Regions from separate parts of the Homo sapiens genome. Here region 1 is linked to region 2. A link means that fine-mapping ties the variant in region 2 to the expression of a gene that starts in the linked region. Tissue or cell type: lung. Region 2 holds a variant in brackets; the other region holds the start of a gene. All regions are shown on one strand. Distances are from middle to middle.

Evidence for each region. PIP is the estimated chance that this variant, and not a neighbour inherited with it, causes the effect.
Region 1: it holds the start of PHEX, and the variant in region 2 is fine-mapped to the expression of PHEX in lung (GTEx, PIP 0.93).

What each region holds. Positions count from the first base shown.
Region 1 is chrX:22,028,381-22,036,380 of GRCh38, reverse strand. PHEX (phosphate regulating endopeptidase X-linked) reads right to left here and starts at 4,056. Exons shown (of 22, transcript NM_000444.6): 1 at 3,258-4,056. The coding sequence starts at 3,375.
Region 2 is chrX:22,111,147-22,120,092 of GRCh38, reverse strand. It overlaps PHEX (phosphate regulating endopeptidase X-linked), which reads right to left. Exons shown (of 22, transcript NM_000444.6): 10 at 8,533-8,626; 11 at 5,507-5,635. Among named protein-coding and RNA genes, the nearest start is that of PHEX-AS1, 57 kb to the left of the region's middle. The variant C/T (reference allele first, on the strand shown) is at 5,230.

The sequences.
Region 1 (8,000 bases), 83 kb after region 2:
GGTTTTAAATATAACTAATTAGGCCAGGCACGGTGGCTCAGGCCTGCAATCCCAGCACTTTGGGTGGCCGAGGTGGGCGGATCACCTGAGGTCAGGAGTTCGAGACCAGCCTGGCCAACATGGTGAAACCCCATCTCTACTAAAAATACAAATCTTAGCTGGGCGTGGTGGTGCACGCCTGTAATCCCAGCTACTCAGGAGGCTGAGGCAGGATAATTGCTTGAACCCAGGAGGCGGAGGTTGTAGCGAGCCAAGATCGCACCACTGCACTCCAGCCTGGGTGACAGAGTGAGACTCCGTCTCAAAAAAAAAAAAAAAAAAAAAAATATATATATATATATATATGTACGTGTGTGTGTGTGTGTGTGTGTGTGTGTGTGTATAATTAATTAATTGGGACACTGACAGACCCAACCCCTCAAGGAAGAGCATTATCTCCATGGATGGGGTTATTTTAAAATTCTCCAAATAAATGAGGATCAATAAGCCCAGATAATGTGAAGGTGTAAGTGAATGAAATAGAGACAATAAAGAAAATATTTTTAATATAAAAATTAAGATGTTACTTTTGAATGGTTAGGAGCTTTAAAAAATACATGTAAATAGCAGTTTGGTTTCTCATTGTAGATTTCTCTATAACCAGAGGAAATGCCCTTAGGATGCAGTGGAGTCATCCACAGATCAAGAGCATAAGAATGGCCAGAAAGCAGGGGTCAGCAAACTATGGCCTGTAGGTCAAATCCATTGCCTGTTTCTGTACAGCCCATGAGCTATGAATGGCTTTTACATTTTTTTCATGGTCAGGAAAAATAAAAAGGAAAATAATATTTCATGACATATGAAAAGTATATAACATTCCAATTTCAGTGTCTAGAAATCAGATTTTCTTGGCACACAGCCATGCCCATTTGTGTACATATTGTCTATGGATGCTTTTGTGCAACAACAGCAGAATTGAGTAGTTGCAAGAGGCCGTATGGCCCACAGAGCCAAATATATTCACTATCTATCTGGCTCTTGGCAGAAAAAGTTTGCCAGCCAGTGCATCTGAGAAACAGATTGTGGGGAGGAAAGAGAGGGGAAGGAGAAGAAGAAAGGTTTTCCATTCTGGTGCTCTGTAGCTTCTCAGAAGCCACTGCAAGACCACTGGCAATCACTCTTACTGTAGAAGCACTAAGGTTGCGAGGAGAGATTATCCCAGAGCCTCAGATACAAAGATGAGGTACGAAGGGATGCTAGAAATTGCAGGCATGTAAGTGAATGTGGACAGGCAGAGAAATATACCACAAAGTCAAGCAGGAAGCCCCTTGAAGAGACGACGACCCTAACTAGAATATTGTCATGAAGAGCATTGCCAGGCAGGTCCCTGGAGCTTTTCAGACAAGCACTTTGCCTGGGTGCAGAGTGGAGGTGGGTGGCAGAGTTGAGGAGAGGGACGGGGAGAGGGGGTAAGGGGGTGATTCTAAAATAGTGCAGAAATATTTGACAAAAAGAAGTGTCCCTGAATGTATACATCCAAATAGATATGGTCACCTGAAGCAATGCTTCTCAAACCTGCATTTGCAAACAGTCCCCTGGGGGTCTTGTGAAAATGCAGATTGTGAATCAGCGGGTCTGGGGTGGAGCTCAAGCTCCCCAGTGATGCTAATGCTGCTGGTCCACAGACCCCATTTTGAGAAGCAAAGTTGTAGAGGCCACAGCCTCAGTTTGCCCTTATTCTCTAACATCATTTGAGCTCCTCTTAGAGAGTCAAGGTGAGAGCCAGGTTATTGGGCACGCTGGAAAGTTCTCTTTCATATTTTATGCAGGCCTCCTTATCCATAATAGTAGCGTCTGGCTTGATGAATTTTACTTTGCTCTAAAAACATCGGCACTATTTCCTGAGAATAATTTTCTCTGAAAGAACAAAGATTTGCTGCCGCGGAGAATCTTTCAACCGATATGCCACGGCCTCAGGAGGTAATCATAAAAGTAGAGTTTTGTAAAAGTTTCGTGCAGTGGTAATATCGTTAAAAAGAGTACATATTTTTACATAAACAATAATTATTGGGATTTTTAAGTTTGGGAGCATTTGCAAAACCTAACCTTGCAGTCACGTTGCACGTAGCCTGTAGTCTTTTGGCATGCCCATAGAATTTTTCCTCTTGTTTGGAATTTCAGCAGAGGACCCTTGTTTAAACCCTAAGTGCTGAGAAATCTTACAAGAGTTTTCAAGAGCCACAGATTCAGTTGCAGGAGTAGGAGATTTCGCTTTATCAGAAAGCAATAAACCCATCTAATTTCCTAAATCTTCAGCCACAGAAAGCGTGGAAAGATGGTTTGCTCATTTTAGCAGTTTTCAACCACACAACCCTAACTCTTTTAAAGTTTAATTACTGGTTTACCCCTGCCAAAATAAACATGGCCTCCTGCAGGTTTGCTACATTTCAAACTGCACCTAGAATCTCCTCGTTCCTATGTAACGTTCAAGTTAATGAAGTATTATGGGTTGTATGAGAAAAATTAAAACGGTAATAGTCAAGGGTTCAGAAAGCCTAGAATTTTAGAAAATCCCTCACTCCTTTCCAAGATATTTGATTCTTTTTCATGGGAATACACTTCTATCATCCTATATACTCTCTGGGTACATCATTCTCACCAACAGTCATTAAAATAACTGAATCACAATATCTTTCAAATCTTGGGGGAAAACCTCTGTTTTCCTTCATATTAATTTGTAAATCAAATTGCATCTCACCAGAGTCACTGGATAAGAAAGGAATTGAAGAATATCATTAAAAGCACACTTTAAAGGACTGATTTGTGTTTTGTGAATTAAATTTCATGATTCGTTCAAGCAAACATTAATAAAAGTCAAATGGAAAGACACTCCAGCATGGTTTTCATCACAATGTAAAGTCTTTCCTCAAAATATAAATGAAACTATGTGACTATGAATTCACAAACACTCATTTTGCTAAATGTACCACATAAAAAATTTTCCACCCAATGCAACAGAATCAGCCAGCCACTCGAAGCCACTTACACCCACTTTGCCTTCTGGACTATACATTTGGTACTTGGGTGTATTTATTTATTTAGGCTCCTTAAAAAAGCCTTCTTTATCATTTGCATATTTGATAGAAACTAAAGATACACCACCTATGAACGCAGGCAAACAGCCCTATACCTGTGTTATGACAAGTTTTGCTACAATAAAGCACAAGGAAACTTCTCGACACACACCCAGTTCCCCCGGCCTCCTGCACTCCACTTACCTAGAAAGAGGATCGTGCCCAGAACTAGGGTGCCACCGACAAACACGACCAGGGCAATTCGAGTGCCTCTGTTGGCCTTCTTTCCAGTCTCCACGCTGCTCCCTGTTTCTGCTTCCATCAGAAGGGCCGTAGAGAGCACACGAGAAGAAAGTCACTTTTCGTGGTTTGGTGGCTGGTCTCAAGAGCGAGGCGTTGACATCCAAGGCTTTCTTGCTCTTCTACTAATGGACAGCTTAAGAAACTGCCGTCAGGAAATCTCCCCTCGCCACCCTTTCTCAAATAATTCTTCACAAATGAAAATTATAAAAACCAAAATATTGGTTGCCTTGGCTTTCCCCCTGACTAGACAAAACAAACAGTGTTGCTTTATCTTGGTGCTCTCCCTCAGCAAAGTCCCTGTTTGGCAGGCTCTTCTCTCAAGCGTTCCGAGTATATATGTTTTACTATGTTGCTGAACAGATGTTTTAGCTATTTAAATGTATAGTCACTTGGGGAGGAAAAAAACAATTGTTTTATCAAAACTGGATTCTCGTGAAACTCCCCCAAATCATGATAAGTTAGGTGGCCAGGATTCACCGGACCCACTTCAAGATCTCAATTAATCATGTAATTCTGTTGCAAGAATCATTCTGCTTGCCTGAATTGTCTTCATCAAAGATATTCTTTCAGTGTGTGAGTCCCTTTTTAAAGCCTTCTAAGAGTTCCTAGGATATCCTGGAGCATTTTATTTCAGGAACTTTGTGTATGATAGCATGTGCCAAAAATCAGTCATAGTCCAGTGCAGTGCAAAGTAGCAATTAAGACAACCTACAGAGGCTGATGGTTTGAACTGGAACTTTTTCTTAAAGGAAGGAGAAAAAGCACTTCCTCTTTGTGGTACTAAGAAGTGTACAAAAAAAAAAACCCACAAAAAAACACAAGTGCGTGAATTAAGTTTATTAGCAACTACAAAAGATATGATGAAAAATTTTTTCCTTGTGTGTTTTTGATGAAAAGTGCACCATGTGTTTTGTCTGCCACTCCTACTGAGGCAGCCATTCATTAGGATGTTTTTGTGTTTACATAAACTGTCCACTTCAGCAGATTCCCCAGGATGAATTCAAAGGCAATTGGTTTCAGGCCGGGCGTAGTGGCCCACGCCTGTAATCCCAGCACTTTGGGAGGCTGAGGCAGGGGGCTCGCTTGAGGCCAGGAGTTCGAGACCAGCCTGGCCAACAAGGCGAAACCTTGTTTGTACTAAAAACACAAAAATTAGCCGGGCATGTTGGTGAGCACCTGTATTCCCAGCTACTCAGGAGGCAGAGGTGGGAGAATCGCTTGAGCCTGGGAGGTGGAGGTTGCAGTGAGCCAGATCGCGCCACTGCACTCTAACCTGGGTGACAGAGAGAGAGACCCTGTCTCAAAAATAAACAAACAAAAAACAAAGGCAGTTGACTTCACTGGAAAGACTGATGAATGACTGGGTCTTTGATATTTTTGATTATGATAATGATTTAAACGATAACAATGTGCTTTCTTCATGGGGAAGGGCAACTGATATTCCAATGCTACCACTGAAATGATATAGATTTTATTATCCAAAGATATAGATATCGTTAACTCACAACACAATTACTACCTACCTGCTTTTGTTTTGCTGGAGGTCATAGGGCAGTGGGAGTGGGGGTGGAGAATTCAACTATATCTAGAAACCAGTAGAGCAATTATCTCAATGCAAAACTTGTGCGCATGGCTTTAGAGGTGACACAGGAGCTCAGCAGGTGCTGATGAGCTCAGTATAACATGGCCACACATTCATGGTCCTGTCTGGCTTGTCTTGGTCAGGGCTTAAGCCCTTAGCATGGGATTCTCTCAAGTTTTGGGGCTTATTCCATAATATACCTTACTTTCTGCTCATTTCATGTTGCGCCAAAGTCAGGGGGTCACAAGCCTTTGTCCAAGTTATGACATCATGGTGTGTTGTAGTTATCCTGTGCTCATTGGCTGTTGACATTATTTTGTTGCTGTTATTCCATAACACACCCTAGCAGGACTTTGGCCCCTAGTATGGGATTCTCCCAAGAGTTTTTGGACCTCACTCTAGAACACATCTTAGACCATGAGTTCCACAAAGTCAGGAACCATGTTCAATGTTGCAGCTCCAACATCGACATTTCCTGGCCCTTCACAGTGAAAAGGAGAGCAATAAAAATCATACAAGTTAGCCCTAGCCACTTACTCTTAACAACCAGCTTCAGCTGGGCGCAGTGGCTCACGCCTGTAATCCCAGTACTTTGGGAGGCCAAGGCGGGTGGATCACGAGGTCAGGAGTTCGAGACCAGCCTGGCCAACATGGTGAAACCCTGTCTCTACTAAAAATACAAAAAATAGCCGGGCGTGGTAGCAGGCGCCTGTAATCCCAGCTACTCAGGAGACTGAGGCAGGAGAGTTGCTTGAACTCAGGAGGCGGGTTGCAGCGAGCTGAGATCATGCCACTGAACTCTAGTCTGGGCGGCAGAGCAAGACTGTCTGGAAAAAAACAAATACAAAACAAAACAAAACAAAAAACCAACTTCGGGGCCAGAAGTGGTGGCTCACACCTGTAATCCCAACACTTTGGGAGGCTGAGGTGGGCAGATCACTCTAAGTCAGGAGTTCGAGATCTGCCTGGCCAATGTGGCGAAACCCTGTCTCTACTAAAAATACAAAAATTAGCCAGGTGTGGTGGCACGTGACTGTAATCCCAGCTACTCGGGGAAGCTGAGGCACAAAAATCGCTTGGACCTGGGAAGTGGAGGCTGCAGTGAGCTGAGATTGAGCCACTGCACTCCAGCCTGGGTGACAGAATGAAACTGTGTCTCAAAAAAACCAAAAGGCCAAGGTGGGTGGATCACCTGAGGTCAGGAGTTCGAGATCAGCCTGGCCAACATGGCGAAACCCCGACTCTACTGAAAGTACAAAAATTAGCCGGAGGTGGTGGTGGATGCCTGTAATGCCAGCTACTCGGGAGGCTGAGGCAGGAGAATCGGAGAATCACTGGAACCCGGGAGGCGGAGGTTGCAGTGAGCTGAGATCGCAGTACTGCACTCCAGCCTGGGCAACAGAGCGAGACCCCATCTCAAAACAACAACAACGACAACAACAACAACAAACAACAAACAACCAGCTTCAGCTTCAGGAACCTCACATGCTAATGTCTGCGGGGGGAGGAAGGGTGTCATCTTTCAAGGCCCTAATTATTCCTTCTCAATGCTCAACTAAAAGTGATACTTCATATAGGCATAGCACATTCGCTTTAACCTCATGGTAAATCTACATACTTGATAGCAAAGGTATTTTAACTCTGTTTCACAAATAAGGACACTGAGACCAAGGAATGGCCTCAGGTGGCATGGGAAAATCACAAATGGATAGATGGGGGATGGGATCATTGCCATACATGGCATGTCTGCTGCTTGACAAAGCTTCCTGTGCACAGCGAGAGGACAGTCACCCAAGCACGACACCAGGACTCACTTCTTTCCTCTTTCCTTCCTCCTCTCAATCTCCTCACAACTTTCAGTGTCCCCACTGACATTGAATAGTGGCCGTGAGTTCCTAGCTGGAGTAGCCTTCACCTGCCTTGAACTTGCAATTCCCCCAGAGGTGAGGGCAATTTGGGGATTCCCTGAAGTTATACCTACCCATCACTTACCGACAGGAATTCATTCCTGAACGGTCAACTGCTGAGTGAAAAGCCATTAAACCAAAAAAAATACTTTCATTAATTGTAATAGGAAAATTATGATGCATTCTATCCCAAACTAAGATATGCAAACACAGATAGAAAAATGTATTCATTTAACTTAATTGTAAATTTAAAAATAACTGAAAGACTGCCATTGGATTGTTTGTAACACTAAGGATAAATGCTTGAGGGGATGGATACCACATTCACCACGATGTGATTATTTCACATTGCATGCCTGTATCGAAACAACTCATGTACCCACAAATATATACACCTAATATGTACCCACAAAAATTAAAAATTAAAAAAAGTAATTTTAAAATGTATTACTTGAACAATGAAAACAAGTCTGTAAGAGTAATATAGAACTGTCAAAATATTGAAAATAAGCATAATTTGTGTAATGTAATGTAATGAAGGTTTCTTTTATTCACCAGAGGAATAAAGGAAAACTTGAGAGTGGCGGGACTGACAGAGGAAAGGATGTGGGAGAATCATTCATTACAAGGTACATTGTTCATTCTGTGCCATTTTCTGCATTAATTTTTCAGCCTTTTAGGAGATGATGATTATCTTGCCCTCAAAATAAACCACACTTAAAGTAACACGGAAAAAAAAAAGAAAAGAAAAAAAACCCTTTAGGGCAAAATAAAGAAGTTCAAAGCACAGGGAAATAATAGGTGCTCACAGGACTAAAGCAGGGGTCTGTACACAAGAGTACATGGGCCAAATTTGGCCCACTGCCTGTTTTTGTAAATAAAGCTTTTTTTGTTTTTCACCTTTTTGTTTTGTTTTGAGACAGGGTCTCGCTCTGTTGCCCAGGCTGGAGTGCAGTGGCGCAATCTCGGCTCACTGCAACCTCCACCTCCCAGGTTCAAGCGATTCTCCTGCCTCATCCTCTCGAATAGCTGGGACTACAGGTGGTGCGCCACCACGCCCAGCTAATTCTTGTATTTTTAGTAAAGATGGATTTTTGCCATGTTCCCCAAGCTGGTCTCGAACTCCTGGGCTCAAGCGATCCACATGCCTCGACC
Region 2 (8,946 bases):
CTACTGTTATTATCATCACCACATTTTAAAACCAATATGTCCTGACCATCACAGTCACAACTAGGCCCATGGTGACAATCCCTTCATTCCCTGGCCTTCGTTGGAACCTTCACCTGCCCTCCATGGACATGAGTATCTACCTGGGGCACTTACTTATACATTACAGATATAAGCAATAATAATAATAATCAAACAAGGCCAGGCGTGGTGGCTCACGTCTATAATCCCAGCACCTTGGGAGGCTGAGGCAGGGAGATCACTTAAAGTCAGGAGTTCAAGACCAGCTTGGCCAACATGAGGAAACCACATCTCTACCCAAAAAAAATACAAAAATTAGCTGGGCCTGGTGGTGCACACCTGTAATCCCAGCTACTCATGAGGCTGAGGCACAAGAATGGCTTGAACCCAGGAGGCAGAGGTTGCAATGAGCCAAGATCATGCCAGTGCACTTCAGCCTGGGTGATGGAGCAAGACTCTGTCTCAAAAAAAAAAAAAAGAAAAAGAAAAAGACAAGAGTATTAAAAAATAAAAATAAATAAAGGGGAAAATTAGCAAGTGATAACTCTAGACATCCTTCCTGAACACAACTAATCCTCTCTCCTGCCATTTAGGTCATGAGCATATGGATCAGGGCTTGGCACAGTGGAACGAGAGCATCATCTCTATTTACAGTGATGATATATCATCAATTCTCTAGGGGAGTCCCACTTTCATGTAACTTTCCACAAAAGTAATATTAAATGCTTAGCTAATGGAATGTTTTAAAATTATAAATAATCTTCATCTAAATAAGATAAAAAATTAAAGAAGTCCTCTGATAGACAAAGTTATGATTTTTAGTTCTGGGGAATGGGGGAAGAAAGGGAGGTAAGGAGGGAGAAAATGTTAATATAAAAGTCAATGGAGGCCAGGGGTAGTGGCTCATGCCTGTAATCCCAACACAGGGAGGCGGAGGTGGCAGTGAGCCGAGATCACGCCACTGCACTCCAGCCTGGGCAACAGAGTGAGACCCTGTCTCAAAAAAAATATGTGGCTCATATTCCAGTTCAATTGGGTAGTGCTACTTTGGACTGCAAAGACAAAGCAACACTTGCAGCCAATCTCACGAGTTAAGGCTCTGTCCTGCTAACTGGGAGGCAAGGGATTGTACTATATGACCTCTTTTGGTGGCTTTCTGTTGAAGGACTCTCCTTTTCTACATGCTATTCTTCTCATTTCTAATTCAATTTGCTAAATTCCCATGGTTGTGTGTGTGAATGAGTATGAGAACGTTGGTGTATCGGTGTGTCCAAATGCACAGTTGGATGTAGGAAGTCTTAGTGAAACAGTAATATAGAATTATGTGTTTTCCCCAGTGAAAAGGAGGAGAACACTGATAGGTAGGAAACCTCAATGTGAACTGCTCTCTCCCACTCACTCTTTAGAAGAGAGGGTACCAACCACAGGCAGTTGGGCCAACTCTGTCATCAAGAGGTTCTCAAAACAGACACGGAGGAGAAGTGGGGCGGGAGTCTCTTAGTAAAACCTAGGTATCAGTTTTCAAAAGATAAAGCCTGGAGGTCCTAACGCAGGGTTTTTCACAGTCCATTTAAACCAATCTGAATCACAGAAATTTTCAATGATCTGAAAATTAAAGCAGTTACTTGCACTAATGTAACCGGTTTTGGTAAATAAAGTACTGCTATTCATGTCAACTGGCCTGGCCTGCTCTTGTGAGTCACCGAGGCTTTTTTTTTTTTTTTTTTTTTTTTTTGGTGCTGTTTACAAACAAATGAATCATGAGAAGACCTTGCTGCGCAAAGTGTGGTCCACGACCAGCAGCAGCAGTCGCACCTGGAACCTTGTTAGGCAAATTCTTGGGTCCTACCCCAAACACAACTTAAAAAAAAAAAACCTTGTTAAAATGCAATGAGAATCTGCATTTTTAACAAGCAGATGCTCACGTGATTTATGTACACATGTAAATTTGAGACATACCTGAAGTTTAAGCTTCTGACTGTATTCATTTGCTTAACAAACTTTTTTGGTAAATAAACAATGGCAGCCTTCCATCTGAGTTAGGGTCTCTGGAATTTGCCCCTTTGGGGATCTTTCTGTTTTTCTTTTTCTTTAGACTGTAGCTAATAATACTGAATGTTTTTCAAGTAAATCAGTGGTTCCAGGTGGTTCTTGGATGGGAGCCCTGTAAAAAAAAAGGCTATAAAAGGCCAGATATTTCTCTTATAAGTTTCCAACCTAAGTATTCCCTGAGGCAAACAGCTTCAGCACAAGGGAGGCAAACAATTTTACGTTAAAGAGATGAGTATCTGCCTAACTACCAAACTACCCCCACGTACATCAAAATAAGGGGGAAGATGCCAAAATTAACTTTATTTTAGAATGTCATACCCTGACACAAGGAAAAGGGACTTTCACACCAAAACTGAGAAAAACAAGTTTAATCCACATACTTTTCATATTAGTTAAAATTCTTCTACTGCCAAAAAACCTGCTATAATTTTTTTAAATCTTTCATTATCCTTTAATTGTTTTTATAGCCTTCCCAGAGATTATAATATTACTACTGTGATTATCTGATAAGATCTCAATCTATTTACTCTGACCAAAGAGCAAAAGAAAACACGCAATGAGAATACTGAGTATTTTGAAATAAGCCATTAATTCCTCAGTGGAATTATTTGCAAGGGAACTTTCAGGTTCAAACATAAAGTCTCATAGTTAGACAGTAAAAACAAGTTAACATAGGTCAATTTGTTCCCAGACCAAACTGAGGGTCAGGCTGCTATTTCTCACGGCCCAATAACGAGATGCAAATGAACTGGGGAAGAACAGAGTTTTATTTTCTGCCACTGGTTACAGGGAGAAAGCCTGGAAATTATCACCAGACCAACTCAAAGTTACAAAGTTTTCTAGAGCTCATATACCTTCTAAGCTATATGTCTACGTGAAAGTGTGCAATCGTCGAAAGACATAAATGATTAACTTCTTTTAATCTATAACTAGGTGTGAGTCTTGAAGACCTTCTTCTGGAGCCTCAGTAAGTTTACTTAATCTAAATGGGTCTAGGTACTGAGGTAATTACCCTTATCTTGTCTCCTGCTAAATCATAAAGGTTTGGGGAGTTCCTTTAGACCCCAGTAAACTTGTTTGTGGAGGCCTGTGGAGTTTCTTCAGACCCCCAATAAAACTTGTTTAATCCTAAAAGGGTCCTGTTAAGAATTCATTCATTATCTTGTCATGCTTCAAGATCCAGGAAAAGCCTAGGCAAAACTCTTGGTGGGCTCTTTGTTACATTCCAGGCTTTGTATATGGGCAGTGGTTCAATCAGCTTTTAATGTTTAACCTAGCTACTCAGTACGTGCTGGGACAGTTGTGATGGAGGCCTGTGTTAGTGAGACCTGGCCTGCCACAAATGTACTTAGATATGGTATTGCAAAGCAAACTTCAGTGCATAATACATAATCATGTATTATGTATCAATAATGACTATGTACTGATACATAATACCAACCATTTGGTATTATTATGTATCACTACGTGATACCAATCATTTGAACAATCATGACATTACAATGTCTTTGCCCTTTAATTCAGTGTTTATTGACCACCTGCATCCAAGCTGCTCATATATTTGTATCTTATTGACTACACGGATTATTATTAATCATGCCTGGATCTTTTACTTCATGACATTTGTAAAATATAATTCATCAAAAATAAAATGCAGACAAAAAACTTGGCCAAATCCATGTTTCTAATTCAAAATACACCCTCTCAATAGTGAAAAAACGAATAATCTGATTAAAAAATAGGCAAAAGATCTGAATAGACATTTTTCCAAAGACGACACATAAACAGGAGGTTTATGAAAAGGTTTTCATCACTAATCATCAGGGAAATGCAAATCAAACCATAATGAAATAGCACTTCACTACCTGTTAGGATGGCTATGATCAAAAATTTAAGAGGTAAGTGTTGGCAAAATATTCCTGGAAAAAAAGGAAACGCTCATATACTGTTGGTAAGAATGTAAACTGGTACAGCCATTATGGAAAATAGCATGGAAAATCTTCAAAAAAATAAAAATAGGACTACCATTCAATCCAGCCATCCCACTACTGGGTATATATCCAAAGTAAGTAAAATCAGTATATGGAAGAAAGATCTGCACCTTCATGTTCATTGCAGCATTATTCATAATAGCCAAGATATGGAATAAACCTAAATACCCTTCAATGGATAAATACATAAGGAAACTGCGATGTGTGCATGTGTGTACCACACAATGGAATATTTGGCCATAAAAATGAAGAAATGAAGAAAATCCTGCCTTTTGCAACAGCATAGATAAAGCCAGAGGACATTATGCTAAGTGAAATAAGCCAGGCACAGAAAGACAAATATTATATGATCTCACTTATATGTAGAATCTTTATAAAAGTTAAAATATAGAAGCAGAGAGTAGAACAGTAGTTGCCAGGGGCTGGGGGCAGGGAAATGGGGAGATATTGATCAAAGGGTACAAACTTCTAGTTCTAAGATGAATAAGTTATGGGGATCTAAAATATGGCATGGTGACTATAGTTACTAATAATGTATTGTATACTTGAATTTGCTAAGACAGTAAATCTTAAGTGTCCTCATCCCCCACCACCACACACACAATGGTAAATAAGTGTGACAACAGATGTGTTCATTTGATTGTGGCAACCATTTCACAATGTATGTCAAATCATCATCTTGTATACTTTGTGTTTGTTTTGAGACAGAGTCTCGCTCTGTCGCCTTGGCTGAAGGGCAGTGGCGCGATCTCGGCTCACTGCAACCTCCGCCTCCGGGGTTCAAGCAATTCTCCTGCCTCAGCCTCCCAAATAGCTGGGATTACAGGTGCCTGCCACCACGCCCAGATAAATTTTGTATTTTTTTTAGTAGAGATGGGGTTTTACCATGTTGGCCAGGCTGGCCTCAAACTCCTGACCTCAAGTGATCTGCCCGGCTTAGCCTCTCAAAGTACTAGGATTACAGGTGTGAGCCACTGCGCCCGGCCGTATACTTCGAATATATACAATTGTTATTAGTCAAATGCATCTCAATAAAGCTGAAAGAAAAAAAAATACACCCTTTTCTCCAATGCAGTTGAAACAGATGGAGAAGAACACGTTGCCACAGTGATGAGTCCCTCTTTAAATTCAATACCTCAAACCTCACCTACATCTGGACATGCCTGCC[C/T]TCAAGCAGCTATACTACATTCCCTCAGTTTATTCACTCTCCCACTCCCCTGGAAAACTACACACCTTCTCTCTCCTCTAACCTTCAATACCTGCTAACTCATCCTCACTCTCGTTTGATGACCTTTCTTCCTATTTCACTTAGAAGTTGAAAGAATCTGAAGACAATACCCACAGGCCACTACCACCTGGAAGGCTGACATTAGCCTGTTGAATATACCCTTGTCAGATCTGGCTAAATTGCCATTATTTTTTGCTAGCTGGGGAGTACCACTTACCATTTCCTTCTTATCTTCCTGGAAGTACACATCTACAAACATCTTTCCAACAACATAAGGGAGGGCACTTTCAATAAAGTTTACACATTTGTCCCATTGAGGCAGCAAAGTTGTGGTCCCCTGGATTACCTGTGGGAGATAATTGATCCAGATTAAACTTCATTTGGATAAAACCCATGGCTGAAAACAATTCAAACAACCTGAAGAAAACAGTCTACAAAACACTGCACACCCTAACCCATATATATGCATCAGATAGTAGAGGCAAAGGTAAAATAGTTGAAGAAAAAAATTCTGCTTGTCCCCATTATATTTCAAACTAAATGAAAATGTTTTAGGCCGGTCAAAGTGGCTCACATCTGTAATCCCAGCACTTTAAGAAGCCCAGGTGAGCAGATCACCTGAGGTCAGGAGCTCGAGACCAGCCTGGCCAACATGGTGAAACCCCGTGCTTACTAAAAACACAAAAATTAGCCGGGCACGGTGGTGCATGCCTGTAATCCCAGCTACTTGGGAGGCTGAGGTGGGAGAATTGTGTGAACCCAGGAAGCGGTGGTTGCAGTGAGCTGAGATTGGGCCACTGCACTCCAGCCTGGGCAATAGAGTGAGACTCTGTCTGGAAAAAAAAAAAAAAAAAAAAAAAGAAGAAGAAGAAAAGAAAGTGATTTAACAGTTAAAATAATATATGTATCCTTTCTTCCCAATTTTCCCCATTAAACAAAGAATCTGGACAATGGTATCACTTTTCTGCAGTCAGCAGGGACATGAGAGGATGCTATCCAAGTGTCTAGATAATATTTAATATCTCCTGAGAACTAAAGTTCCACTAAGAAGGTCTAGAATCAGTGGGTGATCAAAGTTCCTGCCCAGTGAGGGTTTCCTTGCTCCGAGTAGCACACTCAACAAGGCAGACCAGAAGAACATGGCCCACCATGAACAACACAGGGAGCATATTTACATTGTGTCACAGCAAAAAACACACTGATAAACAAGCAAAATACAGATGTAAATGCTTTGCCCATCTGTCCCAATTATACCATTGCAAGAAAACATTTACAAACAAGTAAGAAGTTTCCCAAGCAGGACCTGGGTCAGAGGTTTACTCTTGGGAATAAAAGCAGAGAAATAAATATAGTGTAAGTTGCCCTTGGAAGCTGGGGGTGCAGGCAGGGAGGAAGGGAGGCCCTGAGAATGGTGGTCAGAAGTGTCCTTTGCACAATGTTAGACCCAGGTTGTTTTGAGGAATGGGATTAAGGCTTAATTTCATCTATTCTTCCTCTGATTTCTGGTAACCTCTCTCAGAGGTAAGCGATGAATCTATTTTTAAAACCTCTAGAGAAAGAGATCCTACAACCTTCTTCGGCAATTCAATATTATATTTAGCACTTCGTGCTCAAGAAACATCCCCTCATACCTAACCTTAAATGTTCACACAGTGCTTCTTACACCTCTCTCATTCTCTTCACAGTAGGGGTGGAAAGCAGCTGGGCATCATCTTTTATGTGATTCGTAGCAGTTAAAAATACACACAAACACACACACACACACACACACACACACACACACACACACACACACACAAAACCTACTTGTTTTGTATCTTAACCCATCAATATGACCTAAATATATATATAGTTGTTTTATGCTGTTCTCTGTAAAAAAGACTTTTTTTCTTTTTTTTGAGACGGAGTCTTGCTCTGTTGCCCAGGCTGGAGTGCATTGGTGCCATCATCTCAGTTCACTGTAGCCTCCGCCTCCCGGATTCAAGCAATTCTCCTGCCTCAGCCCCCCGAGTAGCTGGGACCACAGGTGCGTGACACCATGCCCGGCTAATTTTTGTATTTTTTGTAGAGACGAGGTTTCACCACGTTGGCCAGGCTGGTCTCAAACTCCTGACCTCAATTTGCCTGCCTTGGCCTCCCAAAGTGCTGGGATTACAGGTGTGAGCCACTGCACCCAGCCCTAAAGTAACTTTATATGCTAGTGACTTTATAGGGTCAAAGCATATCCAAAATAATTGCACTACTCTTCCAGAGTAATGGCCCACTAAGAATTTCTATACTTATTAGTTCCTCTAATAACTAAAATGCCTCTTGAATGAAATCATAGCTTATAAGATTCACCATTCACTTAACTTTAAATTGATAGAAAAATAAAAACTGTTTCAAAGATACAAAATCCTTACGGCCTCTAGTGGTAGGAGAATTAGTCAGACATAAGCCTCAAAAACAAAGGTGAGAGTAACATGGGTACAAACTGGGAGACGAGCAAGGGTGGGAGAGAAGCAAAGGTTAAAGAGCCAGGTGAGGCCCGGCACAGTGGCTCGTGCCTTTAATCCCAGCACTTTGGGAAGCTGAGGTGAGAGGATCACTTGAGCTCTGGAGTTCAAGACAAGCCTGGGCAACATGGCAAGACCCCATCTCTAATAAAAATAAATAAATAAAGAGCCAGGTGAGCAGGTGGAGGAAAACCATCTCAGACAGTTGAGCAAGAAAACTAAATTGGAGCCTCTTGGACCTAGCAGAGGATAGATTCAAAGATGGAAGGTATAGGCAAAGTTTAAGACAAAATTCCATTTCCAAATTGAAAATGAAGTTCTACCATCCAATATCTCTATCATGCACATTTTAAATATTCAGAATACTGAGAATAAAAGATAGTTACAAATATATCACAAAGAAATGTTAAAACTATAATTACAGTGACCCAGTTAAAAACTCTGGGGGAAAATGGGAATACACTAATAAGACGGGGAAGTTTGAAAACAATGTGTGGCCTCAAGTATTTCTCTAAATATCTTTATATAACCCATCAAAGTAAAACTTGAGTGTACCTTACCATATGTAATTTATACCTAAATAAAAATAAATAAGGCACACACACACACACAAAAACAATAGAGCTTGGGCTACAAACTCCCCCTGTCTAATCCCTAAAGATGATTTTTACTGGATCAGTTAATATATGGACTATTCCAGCATGTAAAGTTATCCAGCGATGTAACACTGCAATCTTCTTAAACTTACCCTTGAGAATTCCAGCCATCTATACTGAAAGCGCCTGCTAAGGTTTGGAATTCTGGAATAAACCATTCTCCACACCAAATAGTTGGCAATGGTCCTGTTAACAGAGAGAGATGCCCATTTATTGTATTTTAGGTCAATATCTGATGCTCTGCAGAACATCTTGAGAGAAACAGTTGGCAAAGCTCCATCGAGGGACCTCTTACTCATACAAAAATGCAGAACTTTCACTTGAGAAATGACATAAGATGATACAATGTCAATAAGCACAACCAAAATTGGCTTGCTTTTCACCACCTAACAGAGATAGATGAAGGAAAGATTCCAGCTCCAGCCCTCAGAGTGAACATTTTACTTTCACTCTCAGGGTATAAAGTCCACTGTTACACAGCCTTTCGTGTCTGGAAATTGTGAGTA